2 separate regions of the Homo sapiens genome follow, and region 1 is linked to region 2. The links come from fine-mapping of genetic effects on gene expression. A gene starts in region 2. The other region holds a variant in brackets. All regions are shown on one strand. Distances are between the middles of the regions. Region 1 overlaps GFPT2 (glutamine-fructose-6-phosphate transaminase 2). Region 2 holds the start of MAPK9 (mitogen-activated protein kinase 9).

Region 1 (15,015 bases), 31 kb after region 2:
TAGCCGGGACTACAGGCGCCCGCCACCACGCCCGGCTAATTGTTTTATATTTTTAGTAGAGACGGGGTTTCACTGTGTGAGCCAGGATGGCCTCAATCTCCTGACCTCGTGATCCGCCCACCTCAGCCTCCCAAAGTGCTGGGATTACAGGCGTGAGCCACCGCGCCCGGCCGGTTATATGTTTTTCTTTTGTCATTTTAATCATGCAGCCTGAAGTATTTATATGGATGAATATCATGATGCCCGGGATTGGCTTCAAAGTAACCCCATGGAGACGAGGGGTTAATATGAGTGTGTCCGACCGGCACAAGATGGGCTGGATAAGGCTAGGATATTCATTATATGAAAATTCTACTTTTATAAAGGCTTGGAATTATCCGTAATTAAAACATTTCAAAAATCTTCCACGAGCTCAAGGAGACTCCAAGCCTATGGCCCTGGATCACCTCCCTGAGACAGCTGGAGCAAATGTCAAGCCCAGTGTTGGGATGGCACCAGATGGGGTGCATGTAGCTTGGGAGACCTTCCTTGGCCCTAAAAGGGAGCACTGTCTCCCCCACACCTCCCCCTGCTGGGCAGCATGGGCACTGCATGCCACAGGCAGCTCGGCTTGGACACTTGGGCACAGAGCCCATACTGGGTCCTCCACGTGACTCTCAACCTAACAAAATGTTAAAGGAGATGCTTTTTCTATTAACATAAATCAGCAAACATTTATGAGCACTTCGGTAAGTGGTCCTTGAAGTCTTGGATAGGCAAGAAGAGGGAGAAGCCACGGGGCAGGGGAAAGACTAACGTGCGTGGATTTCCAGCCCAATCCCAGCTGTCACCCCCTGACTGCATGGCCTTAGACATCTCTTGCCCTCCCCGTACAATGGCGACAGTAATCCATGGCTCTACGGGTTAAATGACCGCTGCAAGAGAGGGTTCGCAGCACAGGGTAGCCATGCAGAGGACTTAACTGAATGAAGGAGAAGAGGAGAGAGCCCAGAGCTGACCTGATGCAAGGCTGGCCACAATGCCTGTGTCCCTTACCTGACTGGCTGATGAAAAAGCAAACGTCATCCCTGAACACAGGTGTGTTCCTGTCCAGAAAATCACTAGCAAGTTCAACCATCACAGGAAGCTCAGTCAGTTCCTCCAAAACTTGCCGCGTCTGAAGCCAACAAGCAAGCATGGAGACTAAAGTCAGTCACAGGCACGACAGGGACATGGGGCAGCTGGGCTTCTAGGGACAGTTTGTGACACGGAACCTCACTGTCCAGGTGGCGAGGGGACTTCGGTCACCCACAGGCCACCTCGAAGATAAAAGGGCTCCGTGTCATTTCTCACGCTAGCTCATGGGAATGGGTACAAGGGCTTAGCCAAATTCAGAAGGCCACATGAGTGATAAAACTGAAGGCCAGTGTCTGGTCCTAGACTGCCGTCGACTTCCCCACGCACATGTGTCACACTTACAGCCACGGCAGCGTGGTAGCTGGTTCCACAGCCAATCACGATGAGCCGTCGGCATCGTCGAATCTCCTTCAAGTGGTCCTTCAAGCCACCCAGGAGCACTGCAGGGCACACGACAAGGCGTTAATGCTGAGTCTACACAGTCACCGCATTCCCTGAGACTAGGCTCGGGCGGAGGCTCCCCACCGAGTGTAGGAATTACCTGTGTTGGTTTCAAAATTCACCCGACCTCTCATAGTATTGAAAACTGATTCTGGCTGTTCGAAGATCTCCTTCTGCATAAACGCACTGAAGTTACCTGGTCAAATAAACGTCTGGTCAGTTTTAATTTCATTATATTTCACTGCTTTTCATTATGCAGCAGCGATAGTAACTCCTGTAAAGCTTACTGCAGATTCCCAAAGGCATCCCCAGGGATTACCCTGCCTGACACTCACTACCATCAGAGGGAAGCAGGTCAGGAACCAGGACTATCTCCAATTTACATATTGGACCCTGCAGCTTGAGAAAGGGAGGGATTTGCCCAAGGCATGCAAGTAACAAATGGCCTGGCTGATCCCTCTGGGCCATGCTCCCTTAGCAAGGCCAAAAGAAAGTAAAGTGCTTCACTCCCAAAAAGCCATCCAGCTAGGAAAGTACAGCTAAGCAGGCCCAAAGAAACAGGCAATTTTCCTTCTAATAAATACCCTCCTGGTTTCCGTAATAAAAACCTTTCCAGGCCGGGCGCAGTGGCTCACGCCTGTAATCCCAGCACTTTGGGAGGCCGAGGCGGGCGGATCACGAAGTCAGGAGATCGAGACCATCCCGGCTAAAACAGTGAAACCCCGTCTCTACTAAAAATACAAAAAATTAGCCGGGCGTAGTGGCGGGCGCCTGTAGTCCCAGCTACTTGGGAGGCTGAGGCAGGAGAATGGCGTGAACCCGGGAGGCGGAGCTTGCAGTGAGCCGAGATCGCGCCACAGCACTCCAGCCTGGGCGACAGAGCAAGACTCCGTCTCAAAAAAAAAAAAAAAAAAACCTTTCCAGCCACACAGGCATTTCCAGGGCTCTGATTTGAGTGGGATTGGATGGTGCTGATGGGACAATGGGGCTGCAGGGTGTTCAAGCCCCTGCACCTGATGCTCTGGAGGTACCCACAGGCAGGGCAGGCCGTGTTCTCTAGGATACGCACACTCATGACACCAACATCGCCCATGCTCCCGGCCTGTCTCCCATGACCTGGCACTTGTGCGACGAGCAAATGAAGCAAGTGAGGGGAATGAGGGGTGGCCACCATAGGGGAGGGGCTGGGGAGGGACCATGGCAGACACAGGAGCAGAGAAGGAGTCTCTGAGGGGGTGACATTTCAAGGGAGCTGGAGGCAATGAAAAGGAACCAGTCCTATGAGAAGAACAGCGAATGCAGGGGCTGTGGCGGGGCACAGTGGGACAGAGGGTTGAGTGTGGTGGGGCCAGGCTTTGGCCCCACTGGGGTGTGGGGTTTGTGGGCTGTGGCAGGGAGTTTGGATTTTATTCTAAGAACAGTAGGAAACCATTGGAGGGCCTTGAGCAGCGGGATGATCACAGGGGCTGATTCATGTTCTTAGACGTTTGCTCAGGCTGCCCTGTGGGGTAGAGGTTGTAAGGGGACAGAAATGGGTGCAGACAGAGAGGCTCTCCTTGTAGGGAGAAAGTGTACCCCCACCCCCCATTTACTGCAGACCTGCAGACTTCCACCCAGAGGAGAAATGATGCCTGAGGGTGGGCATGTGTCCCGCGGAGTCGGTGAAGGAAGGCAGCTGACACACTGGGCTCAGTTCCAGTAGGAAAGACCTGGCGGCTGGCTGCACACAGGAGCCCCCGCTTGGAGGTGCCAGGCCAGCCTCCCCACATCCCCTCACCTGTGCAAGCCACAGGCTACCTGCAGCCCCGCCCTGGTGGCCACAGAGGGCAGGAGGGCTGTGGCCTCTACTAGGACCAGGCAGAGTGTCAGGAGCTCCACCAGGCGCGCTGGCTCCCGAGGCTGCCGCACGTGGACTCTGGAGGACACCTGCCTTTCATGATTTGCTGCAGTTCCATCTGCAAGGTCTGGATGGCTCGAGATGGGTCATCACTGGCCGAGCGCTTGACCCGGTGAATGGAGAGTTTCCCATCAGCCACTGCGGCGATGTCATCGTCCTCCAGGAAGATGACCCGGTTGGTGTGCTCTATGATAGCGCTGGGGCAAGGGAAACAGGCATCATCAGTGCCCTGCCCTGAGCAGTTACGAGGCAGCAGCCCCTTGCTGGTTCCCAAGCGTGGAGGCCACATCGTTGGCATTTTAGGAGGGACAGAGAGACCACACTAAAAACATTGATTTGCAGGTGAATCTTCCTTTTCTTCTCCACTCTTCCCTCCTGTCCCCACGGAATTATTTTGAAGCCAGTCCCAGACATTATATCATTTCTTCTGTAAACACTTTACCATAGAGCTCTAAAACTATTTTAACCTACTATAATACCATAATCATATCTAAAATGAATAGTTGTTCCTTTATATCATCAAATATTCAGCATGTTTACATATCTCCAATAATCTCACGGCTGTCTTTTTATAACCGGTTTCTTCAAATCAGGATCCAAACAATGTCACCTCTGGAAGATACTCGAGAACCAACACATTATTCTGAATCGTGAAGGGAAAGAATAAAGCATTTATCTCGCCTTTCTAAACAATCTGTCTTTCAGAACAACCACATACTTTATGAAGGCAAGTTTCTCTAAGAAGTGATACAGCTAGTAATGAAGAAATAATAGAAGAATCAATTTATGAACTCCTAATTATTAATAGCTCTAATCAAGGACCATTCATGGCTGTTGAAACCAGAAGGTAAAAAGCTGGACGAAGCTTTATCATGGATGGATAAGGCTGGCAACACTCAAACCCCTGATGGCTCTTAGCACAAAAAGAGAGATGGTGAGACATCACCCGCCTCCTGATGGAAGGACACACCACCAACTATGTAGTCTTGCCAAAAAAAATCAAACCTGAATAAGATCGAGCTTTTAACACTTGTAAACTCCAGCGTACAGGAAACACAGGGGACAGAGGAAGATGGTAAATGACACCAGGGGTTGCACTCAGCAAAACCCAGACAATGGGAAACTCATCAGGACAAAAGACCTAGTTTCTTACACACACACACACATACACAAAGGAGCCCTAAAAGTAGTCTACAAGCTATGCTTACCAAAGAAACATAGGGTCATTGTGTTTATTTATTTATTTATTTTGAGACAGAGTCTCGCTCTGTCGCCCAGGCTGGAGTGCAGTGGCGCGATCTCCACTCACTGCAAGCTCTGCCTCCCGGGTTCACGCCATTCTCCTGCCTCAGCCTCCCGAGTAGCTGGGACTACAGGTGCCCGACACCATGCCCGGCTACTTTTTTGTATTTTTAGGAGAGACGGGGTTTCACCGTGTTAGCCAGGATGGTCTCGATCTCCTGACCTCGTGATCCGCCCGCCTCGGCCTCCCAAAGTGCTGGGATTACAGGTGTGAGCCACCGTGCCCAGCCCATTGTGTTTATTTTTATAACTTTCTCTGTATGGAAAAGAATAATGATTTTTTTCCCTTGAGATCATAATACAAAGTATCTTTTAAAATCATTTTAAGTTTGAAAAGTTGCTAAATGAAAAAGAAAGGTGATTAATGGTATATAGTTGTGGTATAAACCATCAGGTTGGGCTTGAAGGACTACTGGAGAAAACACTCTCGGCCGGGAGCCCTGGCTCACACCTGTAATCCTAGCACTTTGGGAGACCAAGGCGGGAAGATCACCTGAGGTCAGGAGTTTGAGACCAGCCTGGCCAACATGGCAAAACCCCGTCTCTACTAAAAATACAAAAATTAGCCAGGTGTGGTGGCGGGCACCTGTAATCCCAGCTACTTGGGAGGCAGGAGAATCACTTGAACCCAGGAGGCGGAGGCTGCAGTGGGCTGAGATTGTGCCACTGCACTCTAACCTGGGTGACAGAGCAAGACTCCGTCTCAAAAAAAACACTCTCATTCTATCAAGAGCCACACCCACACGTGACTGCCTGAAAATGAACACTTAAACTCCTGGTGCAAAGGTAAAGAGAGAAACCATCAAGGTCTAAGGCTCTAAAAGACGTATATCCAGCCAGATCCTAGGGAAGAAAGAGAAAGAAAGATGGCAAGCCACTGTACTGGAAAAAATATTTTAAACAAAACTTTGTATAAAAGTATACAAATAACTTCGTATGCTTTGTATAAAAGTGTACAAATAACTTCGTATGCTTTGTATAAAAGTGTACAAATAACTTCGTATGCTTTGTATAAAAGTGTACAAATAACTTCGTATGCTTTGTATAAAAGTGTACAAATAACTTTGTATGCTTTGTATAAAAGTATACAGAGCTTTATACAAAATTTTGTATAGAAATATATTTTTTTGTATAAAAAGTAGAAACATGGAGTGACAAGAAGTAAAAACGGCCCTATCCTGTCTCCGAGAGATCAACACTGCTTCCATTGTAGCATTAACCAACCAACAATGCATGACGCATGTGTGTTTATATTTATGTGTGCATGTACATGTTTGTTTAAATATAATTATTTTATTTCCAAAATGGGTAGTCATGTAATCTAGTCATTAAAACCAATGGCCCACCAGTTAGGCTTGAGGTGGACTCGGGGCCTCTGTCACTTGCCAGACCTGTGCCCGTGGGCAACATACATAACCCCCTGGAGTTCCTGTCTCAGGTTCCGCCTCTGTAAACAGAAAAGAGCTGTGCCTTCCCCAGAGGTCTGTCATGATTATCGCATGGGATCCTGGTGAGGCTCTCATACCGTGCCCCGCACACACTGGCCACCGTTGCCCAAAAGCTGGACAGTGTGCTCACATCTGGGAGGGCCACCTGCCATTCCTTTCTCAGCATGTGTTGTCTTTCTTATCTCTACACTACACGCGACAGAATCACTTCCTGAAGTTCCAAAGGCATAAACAAATAAAATAATATGGAGGGTTTTGTTTTGTTTTGTTTTGTTTTGTTTTGTTTTGTTTTGAGACGGAGTCTCGCTCTGTTGCCCAGGCTGGAGTGCAGTGGCGCGATCTCGGCTCACTGCAAGCTCCGCCTCCCGGGTTCACGCCATTCTCCTGCCTCAGCCTCCCGAGTAGCTGGGACTACAGGCCTCCGCCACCACGCCCGGCTGATTTTTTTTTTGTATTTTTAGTAGAAACCGGGTTTCACCGTGTTGGCCAGGATGGTCTCGATCTCCTGATCTCATGATCTGTCCGCCTCGGCCTCCCAAAGTGCTGGGATGACAGGCGTGAGCCACCACGCCCGGCCTGGACAGTCTTAATTACAGCACAGAATTCACAGAATAATTTGGGTAGAGTCAATATTTTTTAAAAATAACTTGTAATCATTAAATTAGTTTTAAATGTTGAGTGCATTAATTTTTGAAAATAGCTACTCTGGAAGCTGAGGCAGGAGGATCCCTTGAGTCCAGGAGTTAGTTCGAGGACAGCCTGGGCAACTTAATGAGACCCTGTCTCAAAAAAAAAAAAAGAAAAGAATAGTAAGCCTTCCTACTGAGGAATGTGGAATCTCTTCCTATATTCAAATCTCTTACTTCCTCATGGTAAATTTCTGTAGACTTCTCCAAATATGTTCTAGAGTATTTTTGTTAAAATTTACTCTAAAGCATTTTTTTTTCCAGCTGTGGTGAATAGTATTGCTTTTTTGGTTCACCTAACGTTTGCTGACTGCATCGTGCCTGGTCACGTGAGGTGACACCTGAGAATAAGGTGGACAAGGTCCCACTTGAACCAGATACAGCTTAGTGGCTAAGGCCAGGATATAGGATTTCCACACCTTTACTCCCAGCTGCTAGTACTATCAGTTCTAACAGCCTTTTGGCTGGATTTAAAAATGTGTAATAGTATTGCCTACAAATAATTATTTCCTCTCCTTTCAGGCATTCATGCCTTTTTTTTA[A/T]AAAAAAAGAAACATCTGGATGGGCGCGGTGGCTCACACCTGTAATCCCAGCACTTTGGGAGGCTGAGGAGGGCGGATCATGAGGTCAGGAGATGGAGACAATCCTGGCTAACACAGTGAAACCCCATCTCTACTAAAAATACAAAAAATTAGCCGGGCGTGGTGGCGGGCACCTGTAGTCCCAGCTACTCAGAGGCTGAGGCAGGAGAATCACTTGAACCCAGGAGGCGGAGCTTGCAGTGAGCCGAGATCACACCACTGCACTCCAGTCTGGGCGACAGAGTGAGACAAAATAAATAAATAAATAAAAATAAAAAAAGAAACATCTATCATATTTCATTGAATATAAGTTACTATTGATCGTTAAGATCACAATTATTTGACAAACTTCTAAGAAATAAAAGCTTCAACAAATTCTAATGGTACTATGCCAAAATCTACAATTCTCCGTGTTTTAGAATCACTGAAATAATACCAGCGTCTCGTTGGTATTCTCGGCGTGTTCTAAGGGGCACCATTTGGGAAGCGCTGCCTTGACCTCAGCGTTAAGTATGATGCTGGCTGTGCGTTTAATCAGGCCTCGCCTCCCTGTCGCTCCCGTTTCCCAGGAGACCCGGCCTGGTGTCCTCCCTGCCTCACAGCACGGCCCTATTAGAGGCTGGTCGGGAAAGAGAAAACCCATCAAGAATGGAAACATAACAAAGGCCCAAGCCTTTGGGTCTTTGAAGAAGGTACCAGAGGTGATTACAGCAGTTTTCTACTTCAAATGGCAGGAAAGTGCTCTGGTTCTCTCTCTCCCTCTCTCTCTCTCTGTGTGTGTGTGAGTGTGTGTATAACTTTTTTTTTTTCTGAAATGAGTATAAAGCAGAATTTCTCAAATTTCAAAATCATTATTCAGTGGATTGATGAGAGCATGGACTTTAGAATCAATTGAAAAACTCCCTGTGTCTTGGCTCTGTCTTTCACAAATGGTCTCACCCCAGGCAAAGGCAGGGAGGGGCATGGGAGGGACTGAGGTCTAGACACAGTTGTCTCATCTAAAGGGGGCAGCCTTTGAGCAGATCCAGACACCTGCCACCTGAGAGAGGGCTGCACAGCATGCCCCGATCTGCTAGTTCTTCCAGAGAAGCTAGAGATTTCAGATTTCTCTGTGAAATCTCCAAATTTTACAACATTGGCAACTAACCCATTCATTTTGTGCAGGCTCGAAGCACTGTGCCCACCAGTGCATCTGGCCTTTGGCCACCAGGGCTGCCTACCACAGTCATGCAGGTGCTCCTAGGACAAGGACTCCAGGCCCAGGCCCAGGGATGGCTGAACTCTTCTTTGGCCCTGCGACTTGCTGAGCCACGATAGCTCACATGGAAGGATGAATAAGAACCGGCAGTGTTTAGACAGGCATTCTTTGATTATGTAATCCCAGGAAGCGAAGAGAAGAAGGCTCAGTTACCTTGCATCAGAAGCAAAGAAGAATTCCACGGCCTTGTCGCCCACAGCATGCAGGCAGGCGGAGCTGTCCAGCCTCTTCATCCGTGTCTTACAGATATTCTTCACATTCTCCAGAGTGCCTAGCAAATGGAGGAATGGGTTGCAAATCCCACTGGGATGTTTTGTTTGCATAATATGCAGCAAGGAACCAATTTCCCCTCTGAATATGTGTGGGAGAAATTTGCAATTTTTAGCTTTGGCTGTGTCAGCCAAATCGTGTAAAAGATCCCCCAATAGCACAGTACCACTGCAAAAGCATTTAAATGGCTACAGTGTGAGAGGAATGCAAACAAAAACAAACCAAAGAAGCACTCACATCAAAGCCCAGTTGCCGTTATACAATGGCACTTTTGTGTATGTTTGACAATATACAAAATCATGATAAATTCATGTCCATGATAAAAAGCTTAAAAAAAATGGAGCCAAGTCTCAGTTGCACAAAAACCTTTTAGACCTGGAGCTGTGCGCCTGTTGGGTCTGGCTCAGAGTGGGGTTTCCTTGCCTCAGAGGGGAGCTGACTGTGCCAGAGCAGCTGCCGAGTCCTGCGACACCAGCAGCTGTGCTGTTCCGGTACTTCTTGAGAAACTTACACGTCCTGTATAAGATAGGGATCTGTTCTGTGGAGAGCTTGTATTTGCTCCGGACTCCGATGAGCAGGGGGCTGCCTCTCCTGTAGGGAGAAAGAGGCATCCCATTACCCATTGCCTTTGACGCCCAGTGCTGGGTGTCTGCCCAGCATCTGAGGTAGGATCCCCAAATCTAGCCCTTTCCCAGTGGTGGAGGATCCTGTTTAGGTCCCACAGGACGGACGCCTGGAGCACAGGATGGAAAGGCCAGCTCCTGAGTCCCAGGTCCCTGACTTGGCATCACCCACCTGCCCAGAAAGCTTGGTAACCTGTCTCACTCCCACCCTCCTAGGCCGGGCCTCCTCCAGTCCAGTCAAGTCCCCACATGTGACCAACCCACAAGGTTAGATGGCGGAGGCTGAGCGTTTGGCAGCAGAGGAGGCGCTGGTGGGGCACAGGGGCACTCTAGGTCTCCACCCAGCCTCGACGGCAGCGCATCCCTATAACAATAGGGCTCTGCACCCACCATCTGCCCAAAGACCCCCTGTTGTTCCTTCCCTTCCCCTAGCCCAGTTCTCTAGCATTAGTGGGCACTAGTCTGACTGACTTTTGTATATTCTCTACTTTGTAGGTGACATAAGGTGATTTCTTGGGTGGTTTTTTGTCTCTGCCAAAGTGACACCCCGTGGATGGAAGTTTAGAATCTTCACCCCGCACCAGGTAGACTTCATCATAAAGAGGACAATAACTGTCACAGGCAAAATCTCAGGGAGTCTGCAGCTGGCCAAGGTGAGGGGCCCTCACTCAGGCCTCCTGTCCCAGCGTCACTGTCTCAGCCACTGCAGCCCGGCTCTCTGAGCACCTCAGCAGGGGATCTTTAGGAAAGAGCTTTAGGATATTTCCTCTGATTCACAACTTCTAGTGGTGGACGTGATGAAGATCTCATGATTTGGCTGGGCGCACAGTGGCTCACGCCTGTAATCCCAGCACTTTGCGGGGCTGAAGCGCGCAGATCACGAGATCAGGAGTTTGACACCAGCCTGGCCAACATGGCGGAACCCTGTCTCTACTAAAAATACAAAAATTAGCTGGGCATGGTGGGGGGTGCCTGTAATCCCAGCTACTCTGGAGGCTGAGACAAGAGAATCACTTGAACCCGGGAGGCGGAGGTTGCAATGAGCCGAGATCGTGCCACTGCACTCCAGCTTGGGCGACAAAGCGAGACTCCATCTCTAAATAAATAAATAAATAAATAAATAAAAGGATCTCATGATTTAAATGATATCCTGATTCCAAAATCTAATCCTTTGCTCATTCTTATAAATTATAGCATGCAAATAAAATCTACCATAGGTGTGCACAGAAATAAGAGGCTCACTCTGGTAACACATGCGCTCTAAACCTGCGGTTCTTCAAAACCAGGCAGGTAAAAGTGCAGTAGTTACGAAAGGATGTGTGCCTTTCCCCTCTACACATTAATTTATTAATAAGAAGAAAACACCGACGAACACTGTAATAAGACAATTTAAGAGAGCTGTTTCAAACACATGAATTGGAATACAATCCAGTAACATTTTACCTTAGGTGATTTCTTGCTAACTTAGATCAATGAACTAATGAAGTGCTTGCTCATCGGCTTGAATCCAGTCCACATATATCCATAATCTGTTAGCCTGACTCAATGCAGTTCCTAAATTTTTCTTCAACAATAACAGACCTTGTTTTCCAGTCACGTTGGCCTGTTTGGACCCCACTTATGGCTTCTCAAAGCGGGGGACAAAGTCTGGGGCTTTGAGGAAGGTGCTATGAACACCTTGAATATTTTAATCATTTATTGTGTAAAGCAAATCTGAGACATAGTTCTGGGGCCAGTGGGGAACTAGCATAAATAGTTTATAATAATGGCAGTGAGAAAGTAGGTGGATATCTAATTTTCTTGGCAAATGACTCCCCCAAATTTTATTGCTGTAGGTTGAGCTCTGTGGTTTCTCTAGACCTTGAGACATATAATTCTCCCAAGACAACCCGAAGATTGTACTGCAGGTTATAGAGCCCTCAGTTATAGGCAATTTAGAAAAATAAAGCTTTATTGCTTCTTCACGCTGCCTTCTTCTGAGTTCATTTAAAATAGTAAATCATGATAAAATTGGATTTTAAAAAGGGCTTCTAAATTTGATAGGAACCAACTGGTATTTTATAATTCTATGAATTGAAGGAATTAAATTCCAAATGGCAAATTAGTTCCAGTTTTAGAAAAGGTTAAAAAAAATGATGATAAATTCCTGTTGTTTCCTGCTGAGATACTACGCCAGTCTGGAAGAGACAGCCTCACCCTCTCCGGCCGTCTCCCAGGCCACAGGTTCATTCCAGATGGCTCCCCTGGGGCTTCAGATGAAGCCCGCAGCCCACAGGGCACTGAGGCCATTTAGAGCCGGCCTCTGTCCGCCTCTCCACTCCCCACAGCCTTTGAGGCCCTGGAGCAGTGTCCATACCACCTTGCTCACCACTGTCTCCCATGCCTGGCACACAGCAGGTGTCAGTAAACACACACTGGGCCTAGAACGCCTCCGTCCCACCAATGCCCTTGCACCATGCCCCCACCTTGCCAACGGGGATCCTGGGAGGTCCCACTCCCTCTGGGCCCCTTGCCTTTGCTCATGCTGGTTCCTCTTCCCACTGCCTGCCTGGGGCTACCTGCCATTGCCCCCCTGCCAGGTAAGGTGATATCCTGTGCTGGGGCCGGGCACAGGGCATCACTATCCTCTGCCCTTCTCTGCCCTCCTGTACAACTGTTCAGCCCTTCAAGGCAGGGACCAGGTCAGATGTCACTAAGTCCCCAGGGCCCAGCACACAGTAAGTGCACAGTAAATATTAGTTGCATGGTTGGATGGATGATCAACCTATGTGAATATAAACAGGATGGCACTTAACCTGCTTCTGTAAATCCATGCAGCACTGGGGGCCCACCGTAACAGAGGGACACATTGGGGCAAGCAGGCTCTCTGAGCCGATTCCTGGCATGCTCCTTTGTGAAGGTGAAGCTTGAGCCCCGGGCCTTCAAGGCCTCTGCTGTACTGGATCCAAATCAATATTCACTTTGCTCCCTAGTTTCATGTTCATAATTTTGCTTTTTCTTAAAGGGGGGCCCACATTGTACAGGCTTCAAGCCCCACAAAACCTGGATCTGCCCTGTCTGTACGATTTTATTTATAACTGGAATTTGTTGCCCACCTCTAAAAATCTGTGGAGATTTCAAACACAAATCCAACTTTCTGGTTTCTTTTTTTTTTTTTTTAATTCAGAAGTGTAGCACCACCAGCCATGGAGATGGTGGGGCGCGGTCCCCGGGGCTGAGCCACAGTTGTTCTTTAGACACCACGAGCACCTTTCAGCGTGCCACAGGCCCTACCTCTCCCGTCTCCCTCCAGCTAAGTGATTTTATTTTCGTTCTTTCTTATGGGAAATGCCAGTGTGTTTTGCCTCACCGTGTGGCAACGGCTTCTCCTGGGTAGTGGACACTCTTGAAAACCAGCGCGAATGCACCTTCCTGAAAACACACAAACAGTGAGGGTCAACGCGTTCCAGCAGCCGCTGCTGCAGCCTGGCCACAGCCCAGGTGCGTCTCCCTGGGCCCCTCCTGATGGCGGGAGGTCCTGGGGTCCCTCGGGGAGCTGAGTGCAGAACAGCGCATCCGGGGTGACATCACGAGGGAAAGCAAAACAGACGGTGCCACGGGAAGTACCACAAACCAGAACATGTGAATTCCACGGTGAGCGATGTGCGGCTTGCCCAGGCCCACAGGGAGCCCGGCAGGGGTGCCAGCTGGGTAGACGGGGCAGTGAGAGTCACAGGAAATGATAGCTGGGACCAGGCTTCCCTGCCCTGCTCAGGGACAGCACCTACTCAGCAAGCCCCTGTGAAGTGCACTTTAGCTCAACACACGGTAGGGCCTGGGTTCAAATCCTGGCTCCACCCCTGCACTGGGCTCTCCCTTTAGCCTTCTTGGCGCCTCGTTCTCCTCATCGGTGAAGGAAGTGAGAACAGCGCCACCTGGCGGGGCTTCCGTGACGATGATAAGCTAATGCACTGAGCCTGGCATCCGGAGACCCAAGAGAAGCACAGGTTGTCATGACCGTTACTGCTATTATCCTTTCCATGGATACGACTGCCACCTGCCCTCTGGGCCTCAGCTGGTTGGTTTGTGCAAAGCCAGAACTAGAATCCAGCTCTCCTAACACAAGAGGCCAGATGGTTTTTTGACTTAAATTCTTGGTGTAAATTCTTCCCCCACGTCCTGACCATCCTGTACTAACTTACCGCAACCCTAGCAGAGCTCAGTTATATATAACCAGCTGCAAATCTGAATTTCCACAAGAAATCCTCCAAGTGTGGAAGCCACGGGCAGCCCCAGGCCCCGGGTGGTCAGCGTGTCGGGTCCAGGTTGCCAACTCAGCTACAGGGCCAGGAACCTGAGTCACCGTCCCCAGGCCTCATTGGGGCTTTCAAACTGCCCCAAACCAGGGGGCTTCAGGCAGACCCTGGTGCTTTTGTCAACAATAAAATAGGACTGAATGGAAAAACACTGCACGTTCTCTGCCAAAAAGAGCCCGGTACTGTCCCAGGTAGGAAAAGTCTTAAGTTTAAAAGTGTCATTATGAGAGAGGTATTTCTGAAATTTCAAAATAAAAATGGAAAAGAAGAAACAGCATGCTGTAATACCTAATTGGCTCACTGTACCTTATCCAGCACATTAAATGTGGGATAGGCTGTTTTTTATAAACACGTCCTCTAAATGATGGACCTCCAAAAACGGGAGTTAGAGGACAAAAAGGCTTCAACAGTAGACTTACTTTTTAAATCAGACTCTGAAAACACCTGCTCAAGAATGATGTATTTTACACTACAGGATGGTGCCTGCCAGATGTTCTGGACTCTGGGCCAGTGTCCAGGCTGCCACAGCCCTGGGGGAGCTACTGGGTGGCACTGCTGTCTGACAGGATGGGCTCTGAGAGGCCCGGACCCCTCTCGTCCTCCCGCACCCTGCATGGGCCTGTGTCTGCTCCACCTCCTCCTCAGTGTAGGGGCCTCCCCTTGGACAATACGCCCAGTGTGTGCTCCCTTCTCAGGGACTTCTTCTCCCTGGGCCCTGTCCTCTGGGATGTCCCCAATCTCTCTCCCTCTCTCCCTCTTTTGGGCCATTCCGTTCCACATACAGACATGCTGTGATATCACCTATCACAAAAACAGGCCAGGCACAGTGGCTCACGCCTGTAAATCCCAGCATTTTGGGAGGCCAAGGCAGGTGGATCACTTAAAGTCAGGAGTTCGAGACCAGCCTGGTCAACATAGTGAAACCCTGTCTCTACTAAAAGTACAAAAATTAGCCAGGTGTGGTGGTGCGTGCCTGTAGTCTCAGCTAACTCAGGAGGCTGAGGCAGGAGGACTGCCTGAACCTGGGAGGTGGAGGTTGCAGTGAGCCAAGATCACACCACTGCACTCCAGCCTGTGCAACAGAGTGAGACTCTGTCT
Region 2 (15,015 bases):
CTGCCTCCCTTCCAGGCTATGAGCAACTCAAAACTGGGAGGGAACGCTACAAGGAGGTTTCCTGGAGGAGGCAAGACCTGAGCTCAAGTTTGTTCACAGTATCGACCGAGGCATGAGGAAACAGGCACTTTCATACACGTCAGTGAGAGCTGAGAAGTGGTAAAACATTTTTTTAGATGGAATATAGATCTGGCTAATAAAAATGTTAACTGCATATCCTAAACTGGCAAACACAATTCTCTAAGTGTATCTGACAAATACGTGTACAAGTATCCAAACATATTTGTGCAAGCATGTTTGTAACACTTCTTGTAACAGGCAAAAAACTAGAAGTAATCTAAAATGCACACTGTGGATGGACTGAATAAATTATGGCACAGAAGTACAACAAGGCCATTCAACAGAATGCAAGGACTTTATGTATCAATGTGGAAAGATGTCTAAGATACAGAAAGGAAATACACCAAGTTGAAGAAGAGAACACATAATGCCCAGCTACGTAAACACACACACACGCATACACACGCACATACACAATGCTGGCAAGTAGAGAAATAGTGGGAAATGAGAAACTTTCTTCCCATTATAACTTTCTATTCTGTTTTTCAAATGTACATATTTCACATTTAAAAACTGATTAAACAACACATGTTAAATGAAAAGCTGCAGAATGATCATTTGACACTTGTATGGAAGACGGGCTTCAGGCAGATAAGGCTAGAGGCATGAGAGTGGGCCTGGCTCTGAGGTACACATTTATCAACACCCTTATAACAACTAGTGAGAAGCATATTACTATCCCCGCTCTGCAAATGAGGAAACTGAGGCTTAGAGGAAGTTGTCCAGTAAGGAAGTTGTCCAAATTCCCAGCATGGCTCAGATTTGAATTTAGGAGTGTTTCACCACAATATTCAAGTTCCTCCCAAAGCACCATTCTGATATCCCTTTAGAAAGTGAAGCTATTTGCACATGGGCTGGCCAGGACCAGCACACAGTCCTGCACATTTCACCTTGCTGACTCCCCCTACCAAAACCTACCAAAACACTTTTTCCTCTAACGATGACAACGATTCAGTGATCCACAGACTCAAGTGAACCTTTCATCACACTAAAGCTTCAGAGTACCCAGGACATGCGATATTTAAATCAACTAACTATTGTGATTAAAAGCAGATTCTCACAATCACCCTCTGTCTCAATGCTTGCTGCCGACATTTTTTTCATTAAATTGTTCTGTTTTCCAGCTGGGCAAGATGGCTCACACTTGTAATCCCAGCACTGTGGGAGGCCGAAGGTGGGAGGATCACTTAAGCCCAAGAGTTCCAGACCAGCCTGGGCAACATGGTGAGGCTTCAACTCTATATTAAACAATAATAATAATAATAATAGTAAAAATCTGGCCGGGTGCGGTGGCTCACACCTGTAATCCCAGCACTTTGGGAGGCTGTGGCGTGTGGATCACGAGGTCAGGAGACGGAGACCATCCTGGCTAACATGGTGAAACTCCGTCTCTACTAAAAAAATACAAAAAATTAGCCGGGTGTGGTGGCGGGCGCCTGTAGTCCCAGCTACTAGGGAGGCTGAGGCAGGAGAATGGCGTGAACCTGGGAGGCGGAGCTTGCAGTGAGCCAAGATCACACCATTGCACTCCAGCCTGGGCGACAGAGCGAGACTCCGTCTCAAAAAAAAAAAAATAGTAAAAATTTAAAAAGTTCTATTTTCCTACTGTAATTCTTTATTCTTTCTTTTCTTTTTTTTTTTTTTTGAGACGGAGTCTCGCTCTGTCGCCCAGGCTGGAGTGCAGTGGCATGATCTCGGCTCACTGCAAGCTCCGCCTCCCAGGTTCACGCCATTCTCCTGCCTCAGCCTCCCAAGTAGCTGGGACTACAGGCGCCCGCCAGCACACCCAGCTAATTTTTGTATTTTTAGTAGAGATGGGGTTTCACTGTGTTAGCCAGGATGGTCTCGATCTCCTGACCTTATGATCCGCCCGCCTCAGCCTCCCAAAGTGCTGGGATTACAGGCGTGAGCCACCGCGCCTGGCCTCCTACTGTAATTCTTATGAAGAATAGCTTGGTATAACAACGTAATCTTTCTTTGATAATCAAGAACCTTGCAGCTCTCAGGGCCATCCTCTGTAGTTCTTAAGCCACAGTATATACCACAATACAGAACAACTAGCATTTGGTTATCACTTCACCCACTGTTGGATCCATAGGACCCTGCAAGGATCTCCGTCACCAGCCCCACTTCCAGGCACCCAGGCCTGCCTATTTCCCTCTCAATCCCCCACTCCCAGGGCCCTGGGTAAGGGCTTCTCGTGGCTCCTTGGACCAGCGACAGCAGAAGCATTCTCCCAGCCACCATTTCTGTGACTTCCGAACCACTGCACACATGCCACTTTAGAAAGAGAAATCACTCCACGTGAGAATATGTACACAAATGTTCACAGCAGCTTTATTTTTAATAGTGCCAAACTAGAAACAACCCAAACCTGTCCTTCAATGGGTAAATGGTTAAACTAACTGCTGTATACCCATACCATGGAATACCACTCAGCAACTGCTGAAACATACCACAACTTGGGTGGATCTCAGGGGCAGGATAGTCAACGAAAAAAGCCAATCTCAAAAAGTCACATCCTGTATAACTCCATGCATATAACATTCCTGAAAAGACAAAAGTATAGAGATGCAGACTAGATTAGTACTTGCCAGCAGTTATGAATGGTGGGGAAAAGGGGCTGCTGTGGCTGTAAGGGGGTGGGACAAGGAGATATCTGGGATGATGACATAGTTTTGAATCTTGATTGTGGTAGTGGTTATAGGAATTTTCACACGATAAAAAATGACAATGAACTCTATACACCTTGCTCCGATGCCCAATGTCCTGGTTTAGACATTTTACTACAGTTGTGTAAATATGTAACCGTGGGAGAAAGCTGGGGGAAGGGTACTGGGACCTCTCTGTGCCATTTGTGCAACTTCCTGTGAATCTATAATTATTTCAAAATATGGAAAGAAAAAAGAGAGATTTGTTGAAAGTGTGCAGTGATCACACCATTCTCCCATTTGAACTCCTTCAACAGTGACTGACTGCCTGGAGAATAAGATTCAGTTCCCTAGCACAGCACAGGAGATGGCAGTCCTCTGGCCCAATCTTAGGCAACATCAAACCACCTGGGATCAGCGGACACACCCAGCTACTGCACACCTTCAGGCCTCTGCCTAAGCTGTTCCATCTGCTTGAAATGACTTCCCTCCCCTTTTTGACCTGCTGGTCAACATTCACCCTCCTTCAAAAATCTAGTTCAAGCACTTGCTTCTCTTACATGTTTCCTCCTCCAGCCTTTCCCTTCAAACCATGCTGGGCATGCCCCCATTTTTGCCACCCTCCCAGTATTCGCTTTAGATTGCATTCCGAGTCTACTTACACTTCTACTCTGTAAGGGCAGAAAATGTGTCTGATTTATTTCTCAATCCTCTACTGATTACACAGTGGGTGCCCAAAAAATGTTTGTTAAAGACAAAGCTAAATGGGAGAAAAAATGCGGTAGGGCAGCTGGGAGCAGTGGTTAAGATCGGGACTTTGACTTCAGACTCCCAGTGGGTCTGCTATTTATCTGGGTGATGTGCAGCAAGCGATTGCACTCATCTGCAACACGGACGAGCAGAGAGCCTCAGGGTACCTCTAGATAAGAAGTGCACAGCCCACTTAGGAAGGCATCTTGATGCAGGAATGCACCCTAAATCTGACGAAGCCTCGTCTAGATCCAATTACTAACTTACAGAGATTACAGAGAAACACATTCAATTACACTGCAGAGATGCAATCAATCAAATACCAACTATGGAAATGCTAAGGAACAACTCGATTGCTTCAACAAATAAACTACCAAGAAAACAAAGAAATAGGAGGGGGATCTATGGATTAAGAGAAACTTAAAAGACGTATCATCCAATCAACAACGTATGGCCTTCTCTTGCTCTACTTTCAAACTATTAAGGAAACCTAAAATTCATGGGGCAGCTGGAAATTTGAATATTGACTAGTTATTTGATGATATTAAGCAATTATTACTTTTTCAACTTTAAAAGAGTCAGTACCTTTAGAGACCTACCGAAGTGTGAAGTATAACTACTGTACACCTCCTGAGCACCCTGAGGTTGTGCCCGTATGTTTTACAGATGAGTGCAATCGCTTCTGCACATCACCCAGATAAGCAGCAGACCCACTGGGAGTCTGACTCAAAGTCCTGATCTTACCCACTGCTCCGAGCTACCCTACCACATTTATTCTCCCATTTAGCTTTGTCTTTACCAAACATTTACTGGGCACCCACTGTGTAATTAGTATCCCAAAAAATAATGAATGAAATGACATGATATTTAGGATTTGCTTGAAAATAATTATGGGTGGTAAGGGTGCAAGTGGATACCATTAGAGATGAAACAAGATTGGTCAGGAGTTAATAACTGTTAAAGCAGGACACTATTCTGTTTATTTTGTATATGTTTGAAAGTTCCCATAATAAAAGTTAAAATAAAAAGAATGATGTTGAAACTGGTTCATACAATCAAGTACAAAGTATCAGGAATTAATTATTCTGAAGGAAAATTATGTAAAAATGGCACCTTCCTAACCAAGTGTGAGGTGTAACTACTGTATGTATGTAGACCAAAAATAGTTGCCCTATTGGCAAATCAATAGTCTCAAGAAGAAAAAAAATCTGGTCTCTGTTTTATCTTATGCCTCATGAAAACAACTGGTTTACTCGCTATTAACTGGTTTGTCTGGTCCTTTTCTTTATCCAGAAAATTAAGAATATTTTATCTTAGACACATTCAAGTATCCCCTCTGTTGTTTATTTACGGGACCAAATAAACAGATTTTAATCTGTGAACAAATTAAAGTCCTGGCACCCTGAAAATTAAATTGCCAGGAAAATCAAAGCTGTCAAAAGAGAAGTCTATGCAAAAATAGTATTGTTTTTAACTCTGCAGGATCCTTTTGAAGAAAAAAAAAAGTTAAATGGAGGAAAACATTAAATAGATTGGTGGTCATTCTTCCAGAACAAGTTAAAAGCCAAAAGAGAATACTCAGAGCTGAGGGACCCAGGAAAGAATCCTTATCTGGGAAGTGATCTGGGTTCGAACTCCACTCACCAGCTGCTTGCTAAGAAACAGACTACTTAGACTCCTGAGCTTCCGTTTCCACAGGGCTCCAGTTACAATCAAATGAGTATCTGGGCTGGCACCTGGGCAAACAGGGCCTGGCTCCCCTGGCCTTAGGCTACCTTTCCTGCTCTCCTCACAGCTCCTCCCTCCCACACAGCCAGTCCTGGAGGATGACGATCCTGCAACCAAGCTGAATGAATCTGTATTTGGCTTGGCTCACAGCATTAAAAAAAAATTTAATTAGCTATTGCCAACATTTAAAAATCAGAACAAATGTGGAGTGCTGCCTTCCTTTTTAGAGACAGGGTCTTGCTCTGTCACCCAGGCTGGAGCACAGTGGTGTGATCATAGCTCACTGCAGGCTCCAAATCCTGGGCTCATGGGATCCTTCCACCTCAGCCTCCCAAGCAGCTAGGACTACAGGTGGATGCCACCACACCTAGCTAATTTCTTAAAATTTTTTGTAGAGACAGATCTCGCTACGTTGCCCAGGCTGGTCTTGAACTCCTGGCCTGAAGTGATCCTCCCACATCAGCCTCCCAAAGTGTCTTGAAATTACTGGCGTGAGCCATGGCACCCAGCCAAATTCCACCTTCTTCTAGAAAACTGCTGGGTAAGGTTCCTGTTCTTTAGGGTCCCCACGACTCTGTGTCCTTACACCTGGCCCTCCAGACTGATTCTCAACTCCACAGTGGCCTACGGTCCTTCCTTGGCCCTGCTCCTTCACACCTCTGTGCCTCTCCCTGCCTAGCAAATTTCTTATCACCCTCAAGGCCCCCCAGCACCACCTGTCACCTCCTCCACATTTCCATGGCATAGCCCCTCCCCTATAGCAAGGGTTGTACAGTCCTGGAACTAAGTGTCTGCATGCCTGCCTTCTCTACTGGGCTCCTGGGCTCTCTCGGGAAAGGGACCCCGTTGCTATCTGCCTTGTGTCCGTAGGGTCTAGCAGAAAGCATGACCTAGATAATGCAGAATTCAGTAAATGTCTCTTGTATGTGTGGAAGAAAGCTACAGCTAAACTATTATAAAAATGTGAGATTTTATATCACAGCTTGTTCCAACAGTTAGCAATTAAAGGGGTCAAGGACACCAAAATGTTTCACAAAATAGAACAAGCTTCCATCTGCTTACAAGTTTCACACGCTAATCAGAAGTCACTAAATGAACAGATAAAGCAGAGACAACAGGCAGGCTGGGCCATTTCTTTGATCATTCATTCATTCATTGAGCTGATACTACTGAATACTTCCTGTGTGCTTTCTAAGCACTGGGGATAAAGCAGTGGACAAATCAGACAGCTACCTGTTTTCACAAAGTTACATCCTAGTCGGGGAGACAGAAAATAAGCAGGCAAATAAATAGAATAGTTTCAAACCAGATGAGAGCTAGGAAGGAAATTTTTTAAATAATGAAATAGCATGACTAAGGGAAGAAAGAGGGTGGTCGAGGAGGGCCTCACCCAAAACGAGACATCTGACCAGAGGAAGGAGCAGAAAGAGCTACTTGTGCCAAGATCACGGAGACAACTCCAAAGACGGGGAAACAGCAAATGCAAAGGTCCTGGGGCAAATGCGGGCTGGCATGTTCAAGGCGGGCGAGATGAGTGGGACGGGGCAGCAGTCTTCTGGGGGAGGGGCGCGGTGGTAAGGGATTCGGGCTGGGTCCCCTCTGGCACTGCTGGACACCGAGTGTGCAATGACAAGGCAAGAGAGGAGTGCGCGGGGAGGCGGGAGGCTGGGCGGGTGGGGAGGGGGTTCCTACACCACTCACACCAGCACGGGCCAGCACCCTGCCCAGTCTTCCACAGATGCACACCGGGGTCCTGCCCAGGCGTCTGCATACATTCACACAGCCTGACAACAACCCTGTCCAGAAGAGACATTTCCCCACCTTCCCGAAGGCAAAACCGCGGCAGAGCGAGGGTCAGTGCCTTGGCCAAGGTCGCGGGGACGCGACCCCGGGCCCCTGGGCACCCGGCGCAGGAGTGCAGCTGTCTGCCCCACCTCCGGGAGGGATGGCGCCCGCAGACCCCACGGGCAGGTCGGCCGGGCCAGGCCGGTGAGCAGGCCCGCAGCCCGGGGCTGCTGACAGCCGGGCGGAAGGGGGCGCCTGCGGCATCCCCCAGCACAGGGGCGACGGCTGCGGCTGCCAGGGCCCCGCAGCCCCCGGCCCGCCCCGAAGCCCCCGGCCGCGCGGTTCCCTCACCGCCCCTCCCCGCGGGCCCGGCCCGAGCAGCCGCCGCCAGGCCTAGCCCGCCCGCCGGGCTCACCTCGCCTCCCCGCCGCCGCGCCACGGGGAGAGGGCGGGCGGGCGGACTGGCGGCGCTGCGTGCTAGTCACTCCTGGCTCCGCGGCCCCGGCTCCGCCGCCGGCCCGCCCCGCTCCGCTCCGCCCCGCCGCCGCCGCCGCCGCCGCCGCCGCAGTGGGTGTGAGGGGCGCCGGGGCGCTGCGACCCTTCCGGTCCCGCTCCCTTCTCCGCCGCTGCCGCCGCCGCGGCGCCCGGTCTGACAGACCCTCGCGCCGACCAATCAGCGCGCGGAGAGCGGAGCAGGCGCGGCCAATGGCGCCTGGGGGGCGGGCCGATGGAGGGTGGCGCGGGCGGGGTCGGGGGCCGGGTCGGGCGCCCGAGGTCCTGGGCCGGGGTTCCGCGGGTTCTTCGCCCCCGGGCCTTTCAGTGGCGCGGGCCGAGTGGCCATGGCGCTCGGGTGCGCGCAGTGCACGCGGTGAGCTGGAGACGCAGGCATTGCGCGGCCCACCGGCTGAGCCCGCTCTCCCTGCGAGGGGGGCGCAGCTCGGTGGAGAGGGTGGCCCGGAGGACCGGGAACCGGGCTGGAGGCGCGCGGGGCTCACACCGCGGGGTCCGCGGGGAGCCGGGCCTCGGGCTGCAGGTGCAGGCTTGTGGCGGTGAGGCGACTGGAGCGGCACGGGAGCCCGCCCGTTTCGGGGAGAGCCCGGGGCGATCGCGGGGGGAGGCCGGCCTGGCGTCCGGGAGCCCGGCGTGCTAGGGCCCGGTAGGCGGGGCGGGCCTCGCACTCGGTTGCTCGCTGCGGCGCCGGAGGAACGGGTCTATGGGGGTGTGGGTGAGGCCAGAAGCCGGGTCGAAGAGGGGGAGGGGGTGCGAAGAGATGGCGGTGTGTAGACAGGTGACCCGGTGGGTCGGTGACGCAGGAGGAGACTGCGCTTGGTGGCGGGATCACTTAGTTGACAACATCTAAAAATTAGGAGGTGCGGCAGGGCGCGGTGGCTCACGCCTGTAATCCTAGAACTTTGGGAGGTCGTGGCGGGTGGACTACCTGAGGTGAGGAGTTCGAGACCAGCCTGGCTAACCTGGTGAAACCCCGTCTCTATTAAAAATACGAAGCAATGAGCTGGGCGTGGTGGCGGGCGCCTGTAATCCCAGCTACTCGGGAGGCTGAGGCAGGAGAATCACTTAAACCTGGGAGGCGGAGGTTGCAGTGAGCCGGGATTGCGCCATTGCACTCCAGCCTGGGTGACAGAGTGAGACTCTCTCAAAAAAAAAAAAAAAAAAAAAAAAAAAAAAAAAAAAAAAAAGGGAGGTGCTCAGTCAAGCCTCTGAGAGGAGTGGGGGGCGGGGCGAGGAGTCTCTTGCTCAGAGCCCCCTAGGGACTGGGACCCGTTGACTCTGAGCTGCTTTTGAGGCTGGATCAGGTACCAGCGGCCTGGGGGTCGTACAGGATGGGAGAGGCCGGGGCTTGGGATGTTGCCAGATCTACGTTGAAAAGTGAAGCAGGAAGAGAGGCACTGAGGCTGGGCACATGGGGAAAACCGTGGAGAGCCGGCCTTTGGGGACTAGAAGAGTGGGAACAATGGTTGACAAATGGTGAGTGTGGTGTAGAACAGCAGTAACACAATACCAGGATCCACAGAGTGGCCAGGGCCAGAGTGGGGAGAAGGAACAGGACTCTGCAGATGGGGAGGGTAAGGGGCTGGGTGGCGTGAAGGGTGGTTGCAGAATTTGGGGAGGGCAGCTAGCCTGTGACCCAGGTTCCAAGGGCACTGAGGTCTGGGCCAGGCCGCTTGGAGGCACCAGAGCCTCAGAGGAGGGGTGGGGTAGAGGAACGGATCCAGCATGGTGTCCCCCTTGGCCACCAGAGGGAGTTTTCTAAATTTGAGCATGGCTCATCGCTGCTTGAAATTCTACGTCACAGTGTGGCCTGCATTGAGGAGGGCCCACACCTGTCGCTACCTCAGACTCACCTGCCACCTGCCTCAAGTGCATGAGAGAGAACAGGAAACCAGAAATTGTCAGGATCGAGGATTATGGGAAAAGAGTAAAAGCCTAGCTGTCAGATCTGAGGTTCCACCAAGGAGCACTGATGGGTGCTTCTCATTAGGAAGGCGGTGCGGTGGCTCACACCTGTAATCCCAGTACTTTGGGACGCCGAGGTGAGTGGATCACCTGAGGCCAGGAGTTCGAGACCAGCCTGGCCAACATGGTGAAACGTCATCTCTATTAGAAATACAAACATTAGCTGGGCGTGGTGATGGGTGCTTGTAATTCCAGCTATTCAGGAAACCAAGGCAGGAGAATAACTTGAATCCACGAGGCAGAGGTTGCAGTGAGCCGAGATTGCTCCACTGCACTCCAGCCTGGGCAACAGAGCAAAAACTGCATCTCAAAAAAATAAAAACAAAAAAACAGAGGGGACACCAGTTCCCAGCACTCCAGGCCTAACTTCATAGCACTCACATCATGTCAAGTGAGTAACCAAAAATCAGTGTACATATGTACACAGCTATACATATCTCACACTAAGTTTTCTGTAAGAGTTCTTTTTATTGCAGAGACACTGCTTTTTTTCTGGTTTATGAAATACAGTGAACATTTATGGACACAAAGCTGAGGTGACAGGGTGGGGAGGGGGGCCTTGGAACAGCACCAAGAATCCTGGTTGAACCCTCCAAGTGAAAAGATCCTGCCACGACATACGTGAACCAGGTGTGACACGTGAGCACGTCTCACCTGATCCGGCCTATGGTGGGGAGAAGCAATTGAGGAAGGCCTTCTGGGCAGGAGGAAGTTGTTGCTGAGGCTGCCGAGCAGGATGTGTTGGGCCTGTGACTTAGGCAGAAAGGGCGCTCAGGCCCACATGCTCAGATGTGAGGACCTGCTTGCTGTGTTCAGGGAGCCACAAGTCACCTGGTCTTAGGGAAAGGTGAGGGGACTGGAGAGTTCTGAGGACCTTGAGGTAGATTGGCACTGCCAGGCATGTAGGCTGGCTTTAGCTCACTGATACGCCTTGTTCAGCCCAGAGAGGTTTTCTTTTTTTAATTGATTAGTTGATTTAAGAAACATTTAGATTTGGGATGAGCTGTTTTGGATGTTTATCCTCAATGAAACTCATGTTCAAACTTAATCTCCAATGTGGCAGTACTGAGAGGTGGGGCCTCTAAGCGTGGTTGGGATTAACCTGTCGATGGATTCATGGATTAAAGGGTTATCACCGGAGTGGGACTGGTGACTTCATTAGAAGAGGAAGGAAGACCTGAGCTGGCCTGTGAATATGCTCCGCCCCCTGGCCATGTGACACCTGCGCCACCCTCAGGACTCTGCAGAGTCCCCAGCAGCAAGAAGGCCCTCACCAGGTGCAGCCCCTCAACCTTGGACTTCTCAGCCCCCAGGGCTGTAACAAATAAATTCTTTTTTAAAGTAAATTACCCAGTTTCAGGTATTCTGTTATAAGCAACAGAATAAGAAACAGACTAAGACAAGAGCACAGCGGGGTGGAGGAGCTAGGGGTGCCTGGGGCATTGGGGACCTGTCCGGAGGCCAGCTGTGTATGCAGCCACAGTGCCAACGGGTTTCTGTGATCCTGATATCCCCCACCCTTGACTGGCCTGGATTCCAATCCGACTCTTGTCAGCTGTGCTCCTCTGGGCAAGGGATTCACTTCTGTCTGCCTTGGTTCTGTAGGAAGTGGCATGGAGAAGGACAGAAGCAGGAAGAGCTGGGTGCGGCCCATGCAGCAGGGATGGTGTAGGTCCTTATGCTGACTGCCTCTGTCCCCTCAACACTTTGCCTGCCCTCCCCCCATTGCACTAACCCACATCTTCCCTTCTCCCCTACAAGGACCCAGAGATGTGCTAGAGGGTGTAAGTCGGGGCTGTCCCAGCTGTGTGTTGTAGAAAACTAAACTGCACTTAAACCAATGGGGACGTTTACTGGGAGGTGCCTGTAACATCATACCCAGGGGAGGTAGGGGCAGAGCTGGTCTGGAAACTCTAGGGCCATGGAGGCCACTGCAGGCCCAAATGGAGTTTGAAAACCCACAACAATGGACTCTGATGGTCCCCCAGACAGGGCTTCCATTCTGGAACTAGTCAGCCATGCTGGGCAGACAGGCTCATGTGAGGACATGGCAGGGAAGGGCAGAATTGGGAAAGGCAGAAGTCTGGAAGTTTCTTCCATGGTGATGATTAGAATGAGGGCATCTGAGCTGGGGCGCAGCTGAGGGTGTGGCACTGTATGGAAACAGGGTTATTTGGGGGCTGTATAACTGAATGCTGAACCCAGTGGCCCTTAGCCCTCCTCCTCCGGGAATCCCCCAGAGCACCAGCAGCTGGGACTGTCCTCAGGCAGGGAGCCAGCAAGCTGTTCTCCAGAAGTCTGACCAGCCCTGAAGGGAAGACCTGAGGTATGAACATTATGACACCCCCACCCCCACCAGATTTCCCAGCAGTGAATCCTGCATCAACCAGCCCTACCATGCCTTAGACCTTCCAGTCAGCCCCCCTTGAATCTGAACAGACAGCTCCATGTCATATGGCTAAGAAAAGTAAGACAAAAAACTGCATCTTGAAAGAAACAGACTCTGTGGAGAAGGAAAATTCAAAAAATAAAAATAAAACTACTGCTAGCTTCAGAGAGAATGAAAAAATATTGCATCCTTCAAACAAGAACCAGCCATTTAAAAATTATGCAGCACAGGTGTATGCAACATGGCCTTGCTCTGTCAGCTGAGATGGCCTAGAAGCAATGACATCTCAGCAGTGGCTGACACACCCAGAGCCCAGATCTTGTTCTCTAATGTCATTCGCCATAAAAGGAACCAGGGATCCCTGGAGAAATGGTTGATTCTAGGGCTGGGACAGGGGATGGACAAGACGAGCCTGGAGAATATTGTTGTGCAGGTAAGGAAGTACTTACAACACACACACACACACACACACACACACAAGGAAGTACAACACACACGTAAGAAAGTACACACACGGAAGTACTTACCCCCCCCCCCACACACACACGGAAGTACTTACCACACACACACACACACACACACACAAGGAAGTACAACACACACGTAAGGAAGTACACACACGGAAGTACCCCCCCACACACACACACGGAAGTACTTACCACACACACACACACACACACACACACAGATGGGGCTATGTCAAAGAGACACAAGAGCCAACTGAAAGAGCCCCCAGTGGCTGTTGCTGGAACCATTGGAACAACAAACTAACATAGTATTGGGCATGACTCAAAATATAAAATAAATATCTATGGTTCATTCTAATAGAAATAATAAATGGGGAAGAATAGAAAAGTTTGTGGCCGGGCACAGTGGCTCGCACCTGTAATCCCAGCACTTTCGGAGGGCGAGGTGGGCGGATCACGAGGTCAGGAGATCGAGGCCATCCTGGCTAACACGGTGAAACCCCATCTCTACTAAAAATACCAAAAAAAATTAGCCGGGTGTGGTGGCGGGCACCTATAGTCCCAGCTACTCAGGAGGCTGAGGCAGGAGAATGGTGTGAACCCGGGAGGTGGAGCTTGCAGTGAGCCGAGATCACGCCACTGCATTCCAGCCTGGTGACGAAGTGAGACTCTATCTCAAAAAAAAAAAAAAAAAAATATATATATATATATATATAGTCAGAGCAAAAAAAAACCCTCGAAAAATTAAATCATGTTGGCAGAAATGAAAAATCTTAGTAGCAGGTTGGGAGATAAAATTGAAATCTCTCAGTAGGGCAAAAAGACAACAAATGAATGATAAAAAAGATAAGAAATTAGAGGCCAGTCCAGCAGCTTCACCCTGGGAATAATAGACACTCCAGAGACAGAGAAACAGAGAAATCCACAACAAAATAATTCAAGAAAATTTCCTAGTCTGAAAGGCAAAAGTTACCAGATGCAATCAACCCTAAATGAAATGTGCTCTAGGCAACTTGTGGTATTTCAGAACACAGGAAACAAAAAAGAGACCAAAAGGTCACCTACAAAGACATCAGACTTTGGACTCAATAGCAGCACTGGGAACAAGACGATGAAGCACTACCTTTAAAATTCTGCAGGAACACCTTTTTCTGACCTAGAATTGTGTGTTTAGCTAAACCCTCTATCAAGTATAAATAAAAAAATCATTTCCACACCTGCAGATTCTCAAAAAACTTGCCTTCTGTTGTGGCCTGAATATTTGTGTTTCCCCAAATTCATATGTTGCAATCCTAACCCCTGCCACATGTGATGTTATTAGGAGGTGAGGCCTTTGGGAGGTGATGAGTGTGAGGGTGGAGCCCTTATGAATGGGATTAGTACACTTATCAAAGAGGCTCCAGAGAACTCCCTTGTCCCTTCTGCCATGTGAGGACACAGCAAGAAGGCTGCTCTGTACAAACCAGGAAATGGGCCCTCACCAAGACTCCACATCTGCCGGTGCCTTGATCTTGGACTTCCCACTGTTGAGAACTGTGAGAAAGAAATGTGGGATTTTTATAAGGCACCAGGGCTGTTACAGCAGGCTGAACTGACTTAAGACACCTCTCAAGCACCTTTTCTCAAGAATGGGCTTCACCAGAACAAAAAAGGAAACTCAGAAGAAGGAAGACACAGATACAGAAAACAGGAGCCCAGGCCGGTATGGCAGCTCACGCCTGTAATCCCAGCGCTTTGGGAGGCCGAGGCAGGTGGATCACGAGGTCAAGAGATCGAGACCATCCTGGCCAACATGGTGAAACCTTGTCTCTACTAAAAATACAAAAATTAGCTGGGTGTGGTGGCGCACGCCTAGAGTCCCAGCTACTTGGGTGGCTGAGGCAGGAGAATTGCTTGAACTCGGGAGGCAGAGGTAGCAGTCAGCTGAGATCACGCCACTGCACTCCAGCCTAGCAACAGAGCAAAACTCTGTCAAAAAACAAGCAAACAAACAAAAAAACAAAAACAGGAACCCAACACAGAAGACATGGCCTGGGAGGCCCATGGAGGGTGGCGAGAAGTGACCCTGAGGTGATGGCTCTGCACCAGACGTGGAGAGCGACTGAGCCATACTGAGCAGCGTGACCCACGGGGTGAACTGTCTTCACCAAGACCCCACCTCCATCAGGCCATCTGTAGCCCGGGGACAAAATGCCCAGGAGAGCCTGGCCTAGGTTCTTGGCGGTACTTGGCTTGGCCATGTGCCGACGAGGGGCGCTCCCCTCCTCTGCTGAGGACGCACAACATTCACAGAAGTTTCCAGCTTTCCCCCCACCGAGAGCTGGAGGCAGGCCGTGGCGAGCTTAGAAGCAGGACGTACAGGTCAGCCCCCTCCCTCTGACTATTTCCACTGCAGGTCCAGCGCGTGGTCCCCACCTTGGCCCTACCAGGTGCCTGACTGTGCTGAGCCCAAGACTTCCTCGAGACCTTCCTCATGACTTCCCCAGGAGGGGCCTTGTCAGTTCCCAGAGAAGCAGGGGTCAGACCACGACCTGGAGACTGATCTGCTCACCTCCTGGAACCTCCGTCTAGTGGAGGCAGTGCCGCCCTCTCCTTGCACCGCCAGCATGCACTCACCCTCCACTTTCGAACTAGGCAGTGTATTTGGGGG

What was found. PIP is the estimated chance that this variant, and not a neighbour inherited with it, causes the effect.
Region 1: its variant is fine-mapped to the expression of MAPK9 in whole blood (TOPMed, PIP above 0.99).

What each region holds. Positions count from the first base shown.
Region 1 is chr5:180,315,306-180,330,320 of GRCh38, forward strand. It overlaps GFPT2 (glutamine-fructose-6-phosphate transaminase 2), which reads right to left. Exons shown (of 19, transcript NM_005110.4): 7 at 12,972-13,033; 8 at 9,511-9,590; 9 at 8,883-9,000; 10 at 3,488-3,651; 11 at 1,658-1,753; 12 at 1,459-1,556; 13 at 1,036-1,156. Among named protein-coding and RNA genes, the nearest start is that of GFPT2, 31 kb to the right of the region's middle. RefSeq lists enhancers at 7,824-8,509, 13,544-14,533, 14,534-15,015. The variant A/T (reference allele first, on the strand shown) is at 7,433.
Region 2 is chr5:180,284,399-180,299,413 of GRCh38, forward strand. It overlaps MAPK9 (mitogen-activated protein kinase 9), which reads right to left and starts at 7,685. Exons shown (of 12, transcript NM_002752.5): 1 at 7,450-7,685. LOC124901151 (a long non-coding RNA gene) reads left to right here and starts at 7,834. Exons shown (of 2, transcript XR_007059085.1): 1 at 7,834-7,902; 2 at 10,573-10,855. RefSeq lists silencers at 7,201-7,390, 7,521-7,890, 7,901-8,240 and enhancers at 8,163-8,805, 14,647-15,015.